Homo sapiens: one gene and its partners. The protein of the gene in region 1 purifies or fractionates together with the protein of each later gene. This does not show direct contact. Each region holds a gene or a part of one and is shown in the gene's direction. Other genes may lie near its edges.

The links.
Region 2: the proteins of NOBOX (region 1) and CCNJ purify together in Homo sapiens (affinity purification with mass spectrometry; one large-scale study listed by BioGRID and IntAct). This does not show direct contact.
Region 3: the proteins of NOBOX (region 1) and DHX32 purify together in Homo sapiens (affinity purification with mass spectrometry; one large-scale study listed by BioGRID and IntAct). This does not show direct contact.
Region 4: the proteins of NOBOX (region 1) and C5orf22 purify together in Homo sapiens (affinity purification with mass spectrometry; one large-scale study listed by BioGRID and IntAct). This does not show direct contact.

The regions. Positions count from the first base shown.
Region 1 is NC_000007.14:144,400,886-144,405,151, reverse strand, and holds the start of NOBOX (homeobox protein NOBOX), read left to right. Parts: upstream 1-1,458; coding exon 1,459-1,495; intron 1,496-3,201; coding exon of another isoform or gene 3,202-3,283; intron 3,284-3,554; coding exon 3,555-4,106; intron 4,107-4,266. UniProt on the Homo sapiens protein: Transcription factor which may play a role in oogenesis. Binds preferentially to the DNA sequences 5'-TAATTG-3', 5'-TAGTTG-3' and 5'-TAATTA-3'.
Region 2 is NC_000010.11:96,046,582-96,050,172, forward strand, and holds part of CCNJ (cyclin-J), read left to right. Parts: intron 1-3,591.
Region 3 is NC_000010.11:125,871,269-125,874,859, reverse strand, and holds part of DHX32 (putative pre-mRNA-splicing factor ATP-dependent RNA helicase DHX32), read left to right. Parts: intron 1-3,591.
Region 4 is NC_000005.10:31,542,275-31,545,865, forward strand, and holds part of C5orf22 (UPF0489 protein C5orf22), read left to right. Parts: intron 1-3,371; coding exon 3,372-3,438; intron 3,439-3,591.

The DNA.
Region 1 (4,266 bases):
CTTGATCATATTCGAAGTTAGTTTACATTTTTGTGTTTCAGAAAGAACTAAAGGTCTCACAATCCTCCAAAGTCCACATGTGTAGGCCAAGCCCCTCAAGGCAATTAAAGGAATAGGAAAATGTACCCACAGCTGATTTCAGCATGAAAGCACGTGGTGTCCAGAGTCTTTTAAATCCTTAAAGCAAAACACCTGGATTCTGTTCCAGGCCGCCCCGCTCCCCACCCAGCTCCAAGCACCTGTTTCTATCTGACCAGCCCTCCGACTTTCTACCCCTCCCCGCTCAGAAGAGGCAAGAATTTTTAAATTCTGATTTTGTTTGTATAAAGATAGTAAGAAACATTCCGTGAACCAGGAATCATAAGGCTGCACCCCTGTGAGATCTCCCCCAAGAAAGTCCCTTCCATTCTCAGAGAATAAAATCGAAACACCAAATGGATGGAAACACAGTAACCACACCGTCCCTGGCAGGGCCGCCCCTGGCTGTACCTGAATTTCCTGTGTGTGGACTGTACCGGATCTACGGAGTCTGTGGCTCTTTCAGCTCCTTCTTCATCATCCGGTGCAGCCTTTGTGCTCTGGAGACCCTCAAATCAGTACGGGGGGCGAGCGCTGTGGCTCACGCCTGTAATTCCAGCAGTTTGGGAAGCCCAGGCGGGCAGATAACTTGAAGTCAGGAGTTCTAGCCCAGCCTAGCCAACGTGGTGAAACCCCGTCTCTACTAAAAATACAAAAAATTAGCCGGGCGTGGTGGCGGGCGCCTGTAGTCCCAGCTACTCGCGAGGCTGAGGCAGGAGAATCGCTTGAACCCGGGAGGCAGAGGTTGCAGTGAGCCGAGATCCCCCACTGCACTCCAGCCTGGGCGACAGAGCAAGACTCCGTCTCAAAAACAAAAACAAACAAAATCAGGAAGGGGACTTTGAAGCTCCTTAATACTGAGGCTTGGAGGGGCCCTAGCATGGGAGTTGGGCAACCCAGCGCTTCCCCTTTGAGGAGTGGCTCTAGAAATCGCCTTCCACAGTCCACAGGGAAGGGCTTTAGCCACGATCCAGGACTGAGTCCTCCATAGGGTGTGGGTGAGCCCCACGGCTGGGCCCAGCCCCCCGAAGACCACCGGGTAGCCTCGCTCCCGCCTCCCACCCCAGCCTCGCCCTCCAGCCCCGCCACGGGAGGGGCCGCCTGAAGGAGACCCGCACCTGGGCCTGGGCTCCTGGCTGGGGGGAGCGGAGCAGGCGGCGCCCAGGCCCGGGTCCTCCCCGCCCTCGCAGCTGCCCCAGCCGAGCCTCCCGGGCCGGCCTCGCCCTGGGGGTGGGGGTGGGGGTGAGGGGGCGCAGCCTCGGGCTACGGCTCCCCCGGCCCGGCCCGGCCCGTGCGGGCTGCACACCTGCCCGCCCGGCGAGGCTTCATTAGGCCGCGCCTGTGCATCACGGGCCGGCCGCGGCGGCGGGAGTCCAGGCCATGGAACCCACAGAGAATCCCTGCCAGGGACCGCTGGGTGAGTGTGGAGACCCCGTCGTGCGAGGGGGTCAGGCTTTGGGGGTTCGGGGAGGGGGGGAGGCCTGTGATCACCAGGTCAGCGTTAGCCGACCTAAGAGCTTCAGTAGGCCGAGGGCCGGGTGGAGTCGGGTGGGGTAGGGTGGGAGGAGGCCGACCTCACTGCCCCCTGTGCTTTGGGATTGCAACCCCCCTCCCCGCTCCCCCGCGCCCCCTGCCCGCCTCCAGTCTCCCAGCGCGCAGGGGAGAGAACCCTGGGAGCCCCAGGACCCTTCTAGTCTTAGGTCTGACACCCGTCCCCTTCTTACTAGCGCACATCACTCCCATAGGACACGTGCTTACGGAGCACCCACAGTGCTGGGTACCAGGCTTTTTGCTACAGTACAAGCTCTCCTAAAATGCTGTAAAACAAATTTGTCCCTGCTTCCCCACACCACCAGCCAGCTTTGTCCCTTCACTCCATAGAGGCCTGCTCACCCTCTTCACCAGCCCAGACCCTCTCATGCAAGTCGGGTCCAGCCTGTGTCCTAGGAAAGGACTTGGAACAGCACCCTTGACCATGACCTTTTTCCTTGACACTCTGTTACAAAGTCATTCCTAGGGTCAGGCGCAGTGGCTCAAGTCTGTAATCCCAGCACGTTGGGAGGGCGAGGCTGGTGGACCACCTGAGGTCAGGAGTTGGAGACCAGCCTGGCCAACATGGCAAAACCCCATCTCTACTAAAAATACAAAAATTAGCTGGGTGTGGTGGCACACACCTGTAATCCCAGCTACTTGGGAGGCAGAGGCACGAGAATCGCTTGAACCCAGGGGGCCAAGGTTGCAGTGAGCCAGAATTGCACCATGTCACTGCAGCCTGGGCGACGGAGCGAGACTCCATCTCAAAAAAAAAAAAAAAAAAAAAAAAAATGTTATTCCTTAAGACCTATCTCATGCAATTTTCATTAAAGTAACAGTAGCTCTTAGTCGTTACTTAGCATTCATTACAAATGTTCCAATTTAGTTGGAAATGATAAAGCAGCTCCCTGAGCTGAGGGTTCTTGGAGTTATGAGTCAGTTGGGAGGTGAAAGTGGGGGGATCATTTGATGGCCCCAGGAAGGACTCCATGTGGTGATTAAGTACACAGAGTACGTGCTCAGGGTGCTGTGTGATCTTGGACATATTACTCTGCTGTCTCATCCTCATTTCTTCATCTGTTAGAAGGGAATATTAGCAGTGCCGTTCTTGCAGAGATTAAATATGCACTGTGCTAATCTTTGAAAGGTGCTTAGCGCCATGCCTGGAACATGATAAGCTCCCAATGCATCAGTCAGCTCACAGAAAGGAAGGCAAGCTTTAGGGATGAGTGGTAGGGTTTTTAGTTCTAGCTGGGTCCCAGTTTCCTTACTCGAAAGAGAGGTTTACCAGAGAGTGAGATCCTGCTTTGCAGGGAGGGGGAGGAAGTGGATGTGCTGGATGGTAGTGGGGTGGGGGGTGCGGGCGGGGGGGCATGTATGGAGCTGAGGAGAGTTGGCAGAGACAGAGTTCCATGGTTCTCCCTGTTATCTCTTTTGATGCTCTTGCCTCGGCTGCTGGAGACAATCGAATCCTTTCTTGTCCCTTCTCCAAGCAATAATGCCTGTTGTGCAGCAGAAACAGCATCCCGCCTTGGGAGAAGCAGAATCTCTGTCAATCTGTTTCTCTTTGTCTTCCTGGTCCATCCGCAGCCCCAACATGATCCCTTAGAGATACCTGAACAGTCCCTCAAACTCATACCCCTGGTGTCTGGGAAAAGGGAACTCACAAGGGGTGAGTACCCCCAAATTAGGAGATACCATGAGCTAACGCCGTCTCAGAATTGCATAAATTTGTCTACATTTTTCAAAGAAGTTGGGTTATCTGATTTAATCCTCACAATAGTCAAGCTAGGAAGGTAAGTGTGGAATTATTACCCCATTTGATAGGTAGACAAATTAAAGCTTAAGATCAAACCGTTTGCAAAGCAGGAAGCAGCACTTCCTCTTGGTCCAGTTCTTCCTTCTCCCTGGTGCTAAGGTCAGTGGATGTTGGCTCCCCACAGGCCAGAAAGCTGGAGAGAAGCCCCTGGCTGCAGGACCCGGGGAGGAGGAACTGCTCCGGGGCTCAGCCCCTCATGCTCAGGACACTCAGAGTGAGGAACTGCCACCCTCCTGCACCATCTCAGGAGAGAAGAAGCCGCCAGCAGTCTCTGGAGAAGCCACCGGGGCTGATGCTGGGAGACTGTGCCCGCCCCCCCGCTCCAGGGCTCCCCACAAAGACAGAACTCTAGCCCGCTCCAGGCCCCAGACTCAGGGGGAAGATTGTTCCCTCCCAGTGGGAGAGGTGAAGATAGGAAAGAGGTCCTATTCTCCAGCCCCCGGGAAGCAGAAAAAGCCTAATGCCATGGGTCTGGCCCCAACATCATCTCCGGGTGCCCCTAACTCAGCCCGTGCCACACACAACCCAGTGCCCTGTGGGTCAGGCCGGGGGCCCTGCCACCTGGCCAATCTCCTCAGTACATTGGCGCAGAGCAACCAAAACAGAGACCACAAGCAGGGGCCCCCGGAAGTGACCTGCCAAATTAGGAAAAAGACACGAACCCTATACCGCTCAGGTAAGTCCCTAAAGAGAGGAAACCGAAGAGATCTGGGGTCATCCTGGGGAAAGGTGGGGCTGTGTGAAGAATCTACCCCCAGGAGACCTGAGGGATGGGGTTAGTTTGTATGTCACTTCGTCCCGGATTCTCTCTTGGGCCGCGGTAGTGCAACTATCTC
Region 2 (3,591 bases), on another chromosome or scaffold:
ACCTTATCTATAATTTAGAGCATCCACATTTAGGTCTTCCTTTGGGCAGTTGCCATTGAGATACTGCAGAAGGTATTCTATGTTTAGGCCCTAGGTTTGTGGAGAAATATTTGGTGTGACTAGCATTGTGTTTACTAGGGAAGAGTGAAAATGACAATGAATGGAAATCATGCCAACTATCCACTCCCTCAAAAAACCCCTACAAAGCAGCTGTCACCTTACACCCTTTTGTCTCCTTTCTTCTCATTATTTTGCTGTGTATAGTTAGTGTCATAGGCTGTTTGGGAAAGTGTTTTTAGGAGCCTTAATGACAAATGGGAACAATTCTAGCTTTGTGAGAAACATTAAGAAAGTGAAGTCCATCAGTGTTTTCCAGGTGTTTCCAGGGAGTCTTTAAGACCATGTTCAGGCCACTTTTTGGGAAAACCTGCTCTGGTTTTGCCTTTTTTCCCCAACTCCCTAATCCCTGAGCTAAGTTAGATTTTCTTCCTAGGTGTTGCCATAATAACCTGTGGTGACTATATTGTGTGATAAGCTCTGTATTTGATTCACCTGCTAGAGATAGGCTTGAGACTGTTTTTCCAGCTTTTATGCCTGGGTTAGTATAGTGTCTGCTGCATGGGAGATGCTCAATAAATGTCACATGGTGGCAGCAAAGGTAAAGTTGCAACTCACTTACACCATTGTAAAGATCCAAAGAAAGAGTTAAGGAGAAAAGAAAAATCCTAGGAACTACATGAGAAATCGGCATCTTCCCTTTATGTGGAAAAAAAAAATTTTTTTGGCCAGGCATGGTGGCTCACACCTGTAATCTCAACACTTTGGGAGGCTGAAAGCAGGTGGATCACTTGAGTCCATGAGCTGGAGACCAGCCTGGGCAACATAGCGAGACCCTGTTGTACAGAAACTAACTGGGCGTGGCAGTGAGCGCTTGTAGTCCCAGCTACTCCAGAGGTTGAGGTGGTTGGATTGCTTGAGCCTGGGAGGTGGAGGGTGCAGTGAGCCAAGATGGCACCACTGTACTCCAGCCTGGGCTACAGGAAACCCTGTCTCAAAAAACAACAATTGATGTATTCTTTGGCTACACTACTAAATTACATTGACTATTTTATCCATTTATCTTAGGTAATATTAAGTTAGGTGAATATATAACTTCCCTTTTTTGTTTATCGTAAAATGTATCAACATAAAACTTTTTTTCCCCAACTTTTAAGTTCAGGGGTACGTGTGCAGGATGTGCAGGTTTGTTACATAGGTAAACGTTTGCCATGGTGGCTTACTGCACAGATCATCCCATCACCTAGGTATTAATCCCAGCATCCACTAGCTATTCTTCCTGATCCTCTTCCTCCTCCCACCCCCACCCTCCGACAGGCCCCAGTGTGTGTTGTTCCCCGCAACATGTGTCCATGTGTTCTCATCATTTAGCTCCCACTTATAAGTGAGAACATGTGGTATTTGGTTTTCTTTTCCTGCATTAGTTTGCTAAGGATAATGGCCTCCAGCTCCATCCATCTCTCTGCAAAGGACGTGATCTTGTTCCTTTTCATGGCTGCACAGTATTCCATGGTCTGTATGTACCACATTTTATCCAGTCTATCATTGATGGGCATTTAGGTTGATTCCATGTCTTTGCTCTTGTGAATAGTGCTTCAGTGAACATACACATGCATGTGTCTTTATAGTAGAATGATTTATATTCCTTTGGTTATATACCCAGTAATGAGATTGCTAGGTAAAAGGGTATTTCTGCCTCTAGGTCTTTGAGGAATCACCACACTGTCTTCCACAATGGTTGAACTAATTTACACTCCCACCAACAGTGTAAAAGCGTTCCTTTTTCTCCACAACCTTGCCAGCAGCTGTCATAACATAAAACTTACCATTCTAACCATTTTTAACTGTACAGTTCAGTGACATTAGGTACATTTGCATTGTTGTCACCACTATCTATCTTTAGAACTTTTTCATCTTCCCAAACTGAAACTCCATACCCATTGAACGATTACTCCCCAATTTCCCACCCTCTAGCTTCTGATAACCACTATTCTACTTTGTCCCTGTAAATAGGACTATTCTAGGTAACTCATTAAGTGGAATCATACAATAAATGTTCTTTCATGACTTTTTTCATTTAGCATACTGTCTCCAAGGTTCAACCATGTAGTATATTATAAGAATTTTCTAAGGCTGAATAATACTCCATGTATATACCACATTTTGTTTATCCATTCATCTGCTGGTGGGCATTTGCATTGTTTCCACCTTTTGGTTATTGTGAGTAATCCTGTTTTGAACATGTGTGTACAAATCTCTCTTCAAGTCCCTGCTTTCAGTTCTTTTGAGTATGTACCTAAACGTGGAATTGCTGGATCATGTGGTAACTCTGTTTAATTTATTGAGGGATTGCCATACTGTTATCTGTAACAACTACATCATTTTACATTCCCACCAGGAATGCACAAGGATTCCAGTTTCTCCACATTCAAGCTAACACTTATGATTATCTGGTTTTGTTTTGTTTTGTTTTGTTTTTTGATAATAGCAATCCAACTAGGTGTGAAGTGCTGTTAGTGGTTTTGATTTGCATTTCCTAATAATTAGTGATGCTGAACAAACATCTTTTTCATGTTTTATGATATTTTTTGGGCATTTGTGTGTATCTTCTTTGGAGAAATGTCTATTCAAATCCTTTGCCCATTTTTATAATTAGGTTTTTTGGTTGTTATCCAGTTGTATAAGTTATTTATATAATCTAGCTATTTACCCCTTATCAGATATGATTATAAATACTTTCATCCATTCTGCGGGTTGCCCTTTTACTCTGTTGATAGCATCTTTTGTTAAACAAAAGTTTTTAATTTTGTTAAAGTCCCATTTCTCTTTTCTTTTTCTTTTTCTTTTTTTTTTTTTTTTTTGCAGGGTAGGGGAAGTTCTGCTTTTGGTATCGTATCCCTGTTACTTCTTCTATTGTGATACCTGTTGGGTTTAGTATCAGTATTATGCTGATCTTATAAAATGAATTTGGAAGCTTTCCATCTTTCTCTATGCTCTGGAAATATTTTAATAGTATAGAATTTTTCCAGTTTTTAAAAAACAAGTTGATATAATATAGTCCTGAGATTGAAGTGATTTTAGGTGTATGAGAGGATGATGGGAAAGGGCAGATCATAAAACTGTTAAAAGGGAAACAAAATTAGAAGATACTAGAGGAAAGGTACTGCTTTCTACACTGTTGCAAGTATAATACTGTATGCAGCATATCCACTTATCTATTACCTTCTAACCAAAAGTTCTGAGCATCTTGGAGAGGTGTAGGGGCGTGTGTGTGGTATGTGGTTGGTTTGTCAGGGATGTTTTTCTGAAAACACCTGGTAGGGAAAACAGGATTCTCTTATTAAAAATCTTTGTAGGATGTATCCATTCTAGAAAGCAAGAAACAAGAACATCTATAATTGTTCACATCAGAAGTGGTTAAGAGTAAGGAGAAAAATTTGGTTTTAAATGTCATTCATTATCCCTCCACTTAACTTTTTCATTTTTGTATTCCAGTCAAGAAAAGTATGTTTTAGGCACTTGTAATACTAATAT
Region 3 (3,591 bases), on another chromosome or scaffold:
CCATCTATTTGTGGCTCTGTTTCTCTCTGTCTTTCTCTATTTTTATGTATTTCTATTTTCTTACCTCTCATATTTTTTATCTCTCTTTCTATATCTTAAAAACCATGAGTTTGTACTGATGCCTCTGATTCCAGTTTAGCACTACAGGGTTTATTCTAGCCTTCCCAGTTTTCATATCCATAACTTCTCTATGAGAAACAGGGCTTCGTGTTATTCACACTATCTTTACCTGTTCTCAGATTGAACAAGTAAAGATACTCAAAAGAACAATTCATATTGTAGTTTCAGAATTGCTAATCCACACTGCAGTTTAAAAAATTTTTTTAATCTACTTCTTGAGTTTTAGAATTTATCATCTTCAAGAGCAAGAATTGTTATATGTTATATGTTATATTAATACCTAGCAATGGTTTCTCTTGTCATTTTTAATTTCTCAATTATTTCAATGAATTAGGCTTATTTTCTGTTAATTGGGACGACATGTATCTTCAAAGTGAGAAAAATCAAAATGGTACTCAAATAAGAAAATGGATCTATCCTAAACTAATTTAGATAGTGGGAGCATTGGTTGGTTTCTTTTGGAAACAACTTGGTTTTTGTTGTTGTTGTTTTAAGAGTTTGCGAGACTGTTTTCTTGTTCTTCAGAGTTTTAAACCTTTCAAGAAAAAAGTCTTTCTTCAGAGCCAAGCTTTACAAAGGTCCTAAAGATTTCACCTGTCTTTGGTGCAGAAACAGAGGACAATTTCCCATATGTTTATAGAATCTTTTCTTATTACATTTTTTGCAGACAGGTTATGAACGATCCTAAAAGAGAGAGAAAAACATCTCTAGAAGTGTATATTTTGCTTATTTCTCCTTCTCTAGTTTTTGTCCTGAAATTTCCCATGAATGGATGGGTCAGTGAGGTGAAAAAGATATGAAAAGATATGAAAAAGAATTAACTTAGATTCTAAAAGATGTATGACTTAGAACATCTGTACTTCTATTGACTGAGTAAACTTGTTCACCATTTTCTGCTGGTAGGTTCTACCTGTATTCACTCAAAACCAAGATGTATGTGAATTGTTATCCAGGGATGTGTGATATTTGATTCAGAAGGGACCTCACTCCTCAGTAATGGATTCTGATATATTGGCTCACTTTGGGTGGGATAGCTGCCTTAGGGGCATACTCAGGCTAGGCATTTTACAGGAATGTTGTTGAAACCATTAAGACTTGCAAACTTAAAAACCATGAGCTTGTGCTGATGAATTCAACACTGAATGTGTTGAATTCACCTTTGGGTGAATTGGTGGTTCTTTAGATTCCTTTAAACTTGTAGATTCTGTTTTTCTGGTACTGAAATTAAAGGGAGTGATTGGGACCTTGGCAGTAGCTTCAGGATTGGTGGTCCTAGAGACATTAAGAGAAGAAAGCAGAAGAGGACTCAGGCCCTGATGGACGTCCTGATGATCAAAAGTGAGGGATTAGAGGCCTTTGGGACTAGTATGTGTCTAACAGAACAGTAATAGCATTGTGTCTCATGGAGGTCCTTTTTTTCTCACTTCATTTATTCTCATTTAACTATATTAAATTATAGTTAACTAACTTTATTATCCATTAGATGAGGTGAAACAATCACTGGCAGTAGATGGAAAGGACAGAAAGTTCTACACCAGTGTAGCTCATGTGGAGGTCCTCTTGCCACAGTGGCAGTGATGAGACCATACACGGATACGTGATGCCGCTGCTGCTCCCTTGATTCTGATCTGGATCTGGTTGCAGATTCTTATAGGAGATCTCCCTGCAGCCCACCCTAAAGACCCCAGGCCCCAGCTCTCCCACTACCCAGCAGCCCAACCTCTGTGTGCTGCCCGGAGTTGGGAATGGAGCATCTTTGCCTCACTGTCTGAATTTGTACAAGTTGTAGAACTGCAGTTGCTAACTTAGGTTGATAAAGCCTTGATTTAGATTAGATTTTGATTACCCGGAGGACTCCTCTTACCTACTCTCATAGCAGCAGATTGGCCAGAGTGTTGGTGATTTCCTTTCAGGTAGGCGGTAAGAGGCCAGGGATGCACATTCTCATGCCTCGATTGCTTACCTTGCATGCCCCAGAGTCAGTTCCAGCTGGGCTTTGGGACAGAGCATAGGGCAGGCCCCACTGCTCTGGCTTTATGCAAATGGCACATCAGAAGTACAGAAAACTGAATTTAGAAAATGGATTGAGAAACATGAAAAAAGTATTTGGTGAGTTCAGAATAAAGAGATGTGAAGTATTGATTTCTAGTTAGGGAGCATTTCCAGACCAAATGCGTAAATCCAAGGGTTGCACATCACCAAACTCCCAGGATAAATCACATGAAAATAGCTTTTTTTATGTGTTAGAGGAGCAATTTTCTGTTTCTTCACCATATTGTGCAACTTTTGCTAAGTACTCAGTCACAAAGTGACCCAGAATTCAATGTTTCTCTGAAAAAAGTTAAAGCCAAATGATTCATAGAAAGGTACAACTATTTAAGCTTTTCTAATTCCCATAGTGCCAACTTGGCAACTAGTCCATCCAGAATAATGTTTTTTAATACTAGGGGGGAATATCTTCCAAAGAGGAACTATGGGGTAGAAACAAAACCTCTAACAGGCTTGTAAGTCATTGGTGAGAAGACAAAGATGCAACTGGGACAATGAAAAAGTTGCTAAGTAGTACCCAGAAAAGTTAGGCCAGGTGTTGTGGCTCACACCTGTAATCCCAGCACTTTGGGAGGCCGAGGCGGGCGGATCACCTGAGGTTGGGAATTGGAGACCAGCCTGACCAGCATGGAGAAACCTCGTCTCTACTAAAAATACAAAATTAGCCAGGTGTGCTGGTGCGTGCCTGTAATCCCAGCTACTTGGGACGCTGAGGCAGGAGAATTGCTTGAACCCGGGAGGCGGAGGTTGCAGTGAGCCAAGATCCTGCCATTGCACTCCAGCCTGGGCAACAAGAGTGAGACTCCATCTCAAAAAAAAAAAAAAAAAGAAAAGAAGCAGAACTAGGGGAAGAAAGGTCAATACCAACAAGAGATACAATATTTACTATAAATGCAGAGAAGGCAAGAGTTCTTTGTAAAGCTGCAATCTCAGTATCCCTTGAAATGTGAAATACTCAAATTATCGACATTTGCCAAATGATAACATTTTTTAGCCAGTAATTCAAGTTTGCTAAGGAATCAACCCTCAGTATGTTACTTAGCTTGCCCAGAGTGATTCAGAAGGCATGTAAAACTGGAGAACTCTAACAAATAAGGCAGATGGTTTCATGTTTCCCTCTTTTCTGGCTGGAGATAACCTTTTCAGTTTGTGTTTGCATTGCTTACTGTTAACTATCTCCAAGTAGCTGTTACTGGAAGGGGAGCTGCATCCTATGTGGTCAGAGCCACAGTTGAGTACGTGCAGTATAATTTGTTGTGACTTCTGCTCAACTATTAACTTGGGCACGTAAGCAAACATTCCTACATTAAGCACGATATGGATATGTTCAGTCTTCTACTGGTTATTGTAACTGATATTTAGATGGCCTTTTCCCATTTCTGAATTAATGTCTTTGCCTCATAGGTGAAATAGTTTGCTCTA
Region 4 (3,591 bases), on another chromosome or scaffold:
CCAGTCTCTACTAAAAATACCAAAAAAAAAAAAAAATTAGCCGGGCATAGTGGTGGGCGCCTGTAGTCCCAGCTACTCGGGAGACTGAGGCAGGAAAATGGCGTGAATCCGGGAGGCGGAGCTTGCAGTGAGCCGAGATTGCATCACTGCACTCCAGCCTGTGGAGACTGGACTTTTTCTGAGACTCCGTCTCAAAAAAAAAAAGCGAAAACTTAGCTTCTTTTAAGGAAAACCCAAACACAAGTGGAAGGGTATTTTCAATCTCTTGACGTGAAGGAGCAGTATTTGAAGGCTAGATTCTCCATCAGGTAATTTATTTGACTGGCTGTTCATATCACCTTGAAAGAATGGAGAGAGAAGTTCTTTTTGAGTGAAAGCCTTTGGTATTGAAGCTGGAGTGAAAGAATATTGACATAAATATTACAGTGATTTTTCTCTAAAATAATTCTTAAATCATGTAATCTCAAACAGCCAGAAAACTAAAATAAAACCATCAGACAAACTTTTTGTCCCCATGAGCATAGGAAAACCAGAACTAGCTTATTTTAAAACTAATCTCCCACGAACTGTCATATTATTCTCTCTGGTGTAAACAAAAGAAAATCAGTTGTAAGGTAGCAAGATAAAACGGGAAATTAGAATCAATAGTACTTTAGGCCAGAACATGAACAGCCACTAAGATTTGTCATGTTTTGGTTATTAAAAATAATTCAGCAGATCTCTAGAAGAATATGGAAAAAGCTGAAACAGTGGTTGCCTCTGGGGAGAGGAATTCTATGGCTAAATGATGAAGTATATGAGTGAGAAATTACTTCTTTTGCTATGTGCACGTATTATCTATTCAAAATACTCATTGTAATTTTTACTTAAAATATTCAGAAACATCCCTAAAATGTAAACATCATAAAGCTTTAATTATTGACACTAACAAAGCAGTGATGTGGAAGAATAATTCACAGTAATATTAATCACATCAGTAAGTATTGATTAGGCACTTTAACATCAGTTAATGGCCGGGCGTGGTGGCTCACCTCTGTAATCTGAGCACTTTGGGAGGCCAAGGTGGGCAGATCGCCTGAGCTCAGGAGTTCGAGACCAGCCTGGGTGACATGGTGAAATCCTGTCTCTACAAAAAAATACAAAAAATTAGCCAGGCATGGTGGCATGCACCTGCGGCCCCAGCTACTTGGGAGGCTGAGGTGGGAGGATCACTTGAGCCTGGGAGGTCAAGGCTGCAGTGAGCTGAGATCGCACCACTGCTCTCCAGCCTGGGTGACAGAGGGAGACCCTGTCTCAAAAAAAGAAAGAAAAAAAAATCAGTTAATGCTTTTTCCTCTTCAGTATAGGGTTCTAAAATGATTCCCTGTTTTTTGAAATGATAGAAGAGGGAGATAGAAAAATAAGTCACAGGACAGGAGTCTTCCTAGAAATACTGAAAAATACCTATTATTTTGTTATTTCATGAAGTCTCAAGCTAAGTTTAAAACTTCAACAACAACAAAATAGGCCTGGAAACCTTGGAATCCTAAGTCCAGCCCACAGACTTCCACTGAAACCCACTCTGCCTACTGAGCATGCCCAGTTAGCTCCTCATCACCAGCAGAGAGTTCTATCACAGACTTGAAAATATGATGAGACTGCAACAGTAGTGAGTTTAGACTGTGCTTGGTATTGAAGGGAGAAAAAAAATAGCATAAAGGAAAAGTAGATGACACTGAAAGAAAAGTCTCCCCAAACCAACCATGACCCTAAAGAGCCAGACCCTCGGCATGGAGGCTTCGCTATGTCTAGGGAAGTGAGGTGGGTGTTTAGGGTCCAGAAGCCTAGAAAATGTCATTAATTAAAAGGAAAAAGTAACAGGACAAGTGGGCAAGCAGGCAGGCCTCCATGCCTCCTTTTTTCTTTCTTTTTTTACTCCCAGCAAATTCGTGAATATTTGTGGAGGAGGAATTAAAACACTAGAAGCATTAGCCAATCAGAGCTTCCAAAAGGTCCACCTAAACTTAATACCTTAAAAGCATCAATGTGGCCGGGCGCGATGGCTCACGCCTGTAATCCCAGCACTTTGGGAGGCCAAGGCGGGCGGATCATGAGGTCAGGAGATCGAAACCATCCTGGCTAACACGGTGAAACCCCGTCTCTACTAAAAAATAAAAAAAATTAGCCGGGCGTGGTGGCGGGCACCTGTAGTCCCAGCTACTTGGGAGGCTGAGGCAGGAGAATGGCGTGAACCTGGAAGGCGGAGCTTGCAGTGAGCCGAGATCGTGCCACTGCACTCCAGCCTGGGCAACAGAGTGAGACTCTTGTCTCAAAAAAAAAAAAAATGCATCAATGTTATATCAGATGATGTAGGATTTTTCCGATTATAATTGTATTTACTGGCTAGGCCTGGGTTCACACCTGTAAAATCCCAACACTTGGGAGGCTAAGGTGGAAGGCTTACTTGAGGCCAAGAGTTAAGACCAGTCTGGGCAACATAGCAAGACCCTATCTCTACAAAAAGATTTTAAAATTAGTTGGGTGTGGTGGTGTTCACTTATAGTCCCAGCTACTCGGGAGGCTGAAGTGGGAGATTCCTTAAGCCCAGGAGTTCGAGGCTGCAGTGAGCCATGATCACACCACTGCCCTGTAGCCTGGGTGGTAGTGAGATCCTGTCTCAATAGTAATAATAATTGTATATACAAATAAACGTGTCCTTAATTTTTTTTTTTTTTTTTTAGCTTTCAGGAAACAGCCTTTTTTCATCACAGTGTGCTAAAAACACTTAGTTTTCTTGCTAATCAAAATAATTTTTTTTTTTTTTGAGACAGTTTCACTCTTGTCACCCTGGCTGGAGTGCAATGGTGCGGCCTCAGCTCACTGCAAACTCCGCCTCCTGGGTTCAAGCAATTCTCCTGCCTCAGCCTCCCGAATAGCTGGGATTACAGGCATGCACCACCACACCTGGCTAATTTTGTATTTTTAGTCGAGACAGGGTTTCACCACATTGGCCAGGCTGGTCTCGAACTCCTGACTTCAAGTGATCCGCCCGCCTCGGCCTCCCAAAGTGCTGGGATTATAGGCATGAGCCACCGCACCTGGCCTCAAAATAATTTTTAAAGTCAGTAGAACTTCCCATTTTTGAAGAAGAAATCTCATTTTCTTGAATGCTCACTTTTAGTCTTTAACACAATGTGTAATCTTTTGGGTAAGAAAACAGGAAACATTTATTTCTTAATATTTTAAGATATTTGAACAGCTTTATCTTTTATTTCCCAAGTGCCATATGAAGCATGTTATTATGGTAAATGTTAGTATAATGTATAATTTGCTATTATCATTTTAGTTGTGGTGGTTGTGATGTTTAATTGAGTGGGATGGCTTTTTTCCAGAATGGAATCACTAGTTCCCCTTGTACAGAGTTTGAAAAAACGGATGGAAGTACCAGACTATGAAATGGTAAATATTTTATATTAATGTGTAAAATTGACCCTTTGTAAAGACAATTTTCTGGGTAGAAGAATTTCCTTTTTGTTAAAGTGGTTCGTTTTTGTTTGTGTTCCTGTGAAGTCTGAAACAATTATTAAGAAAAGAAATGAGTGAAAAAAATAC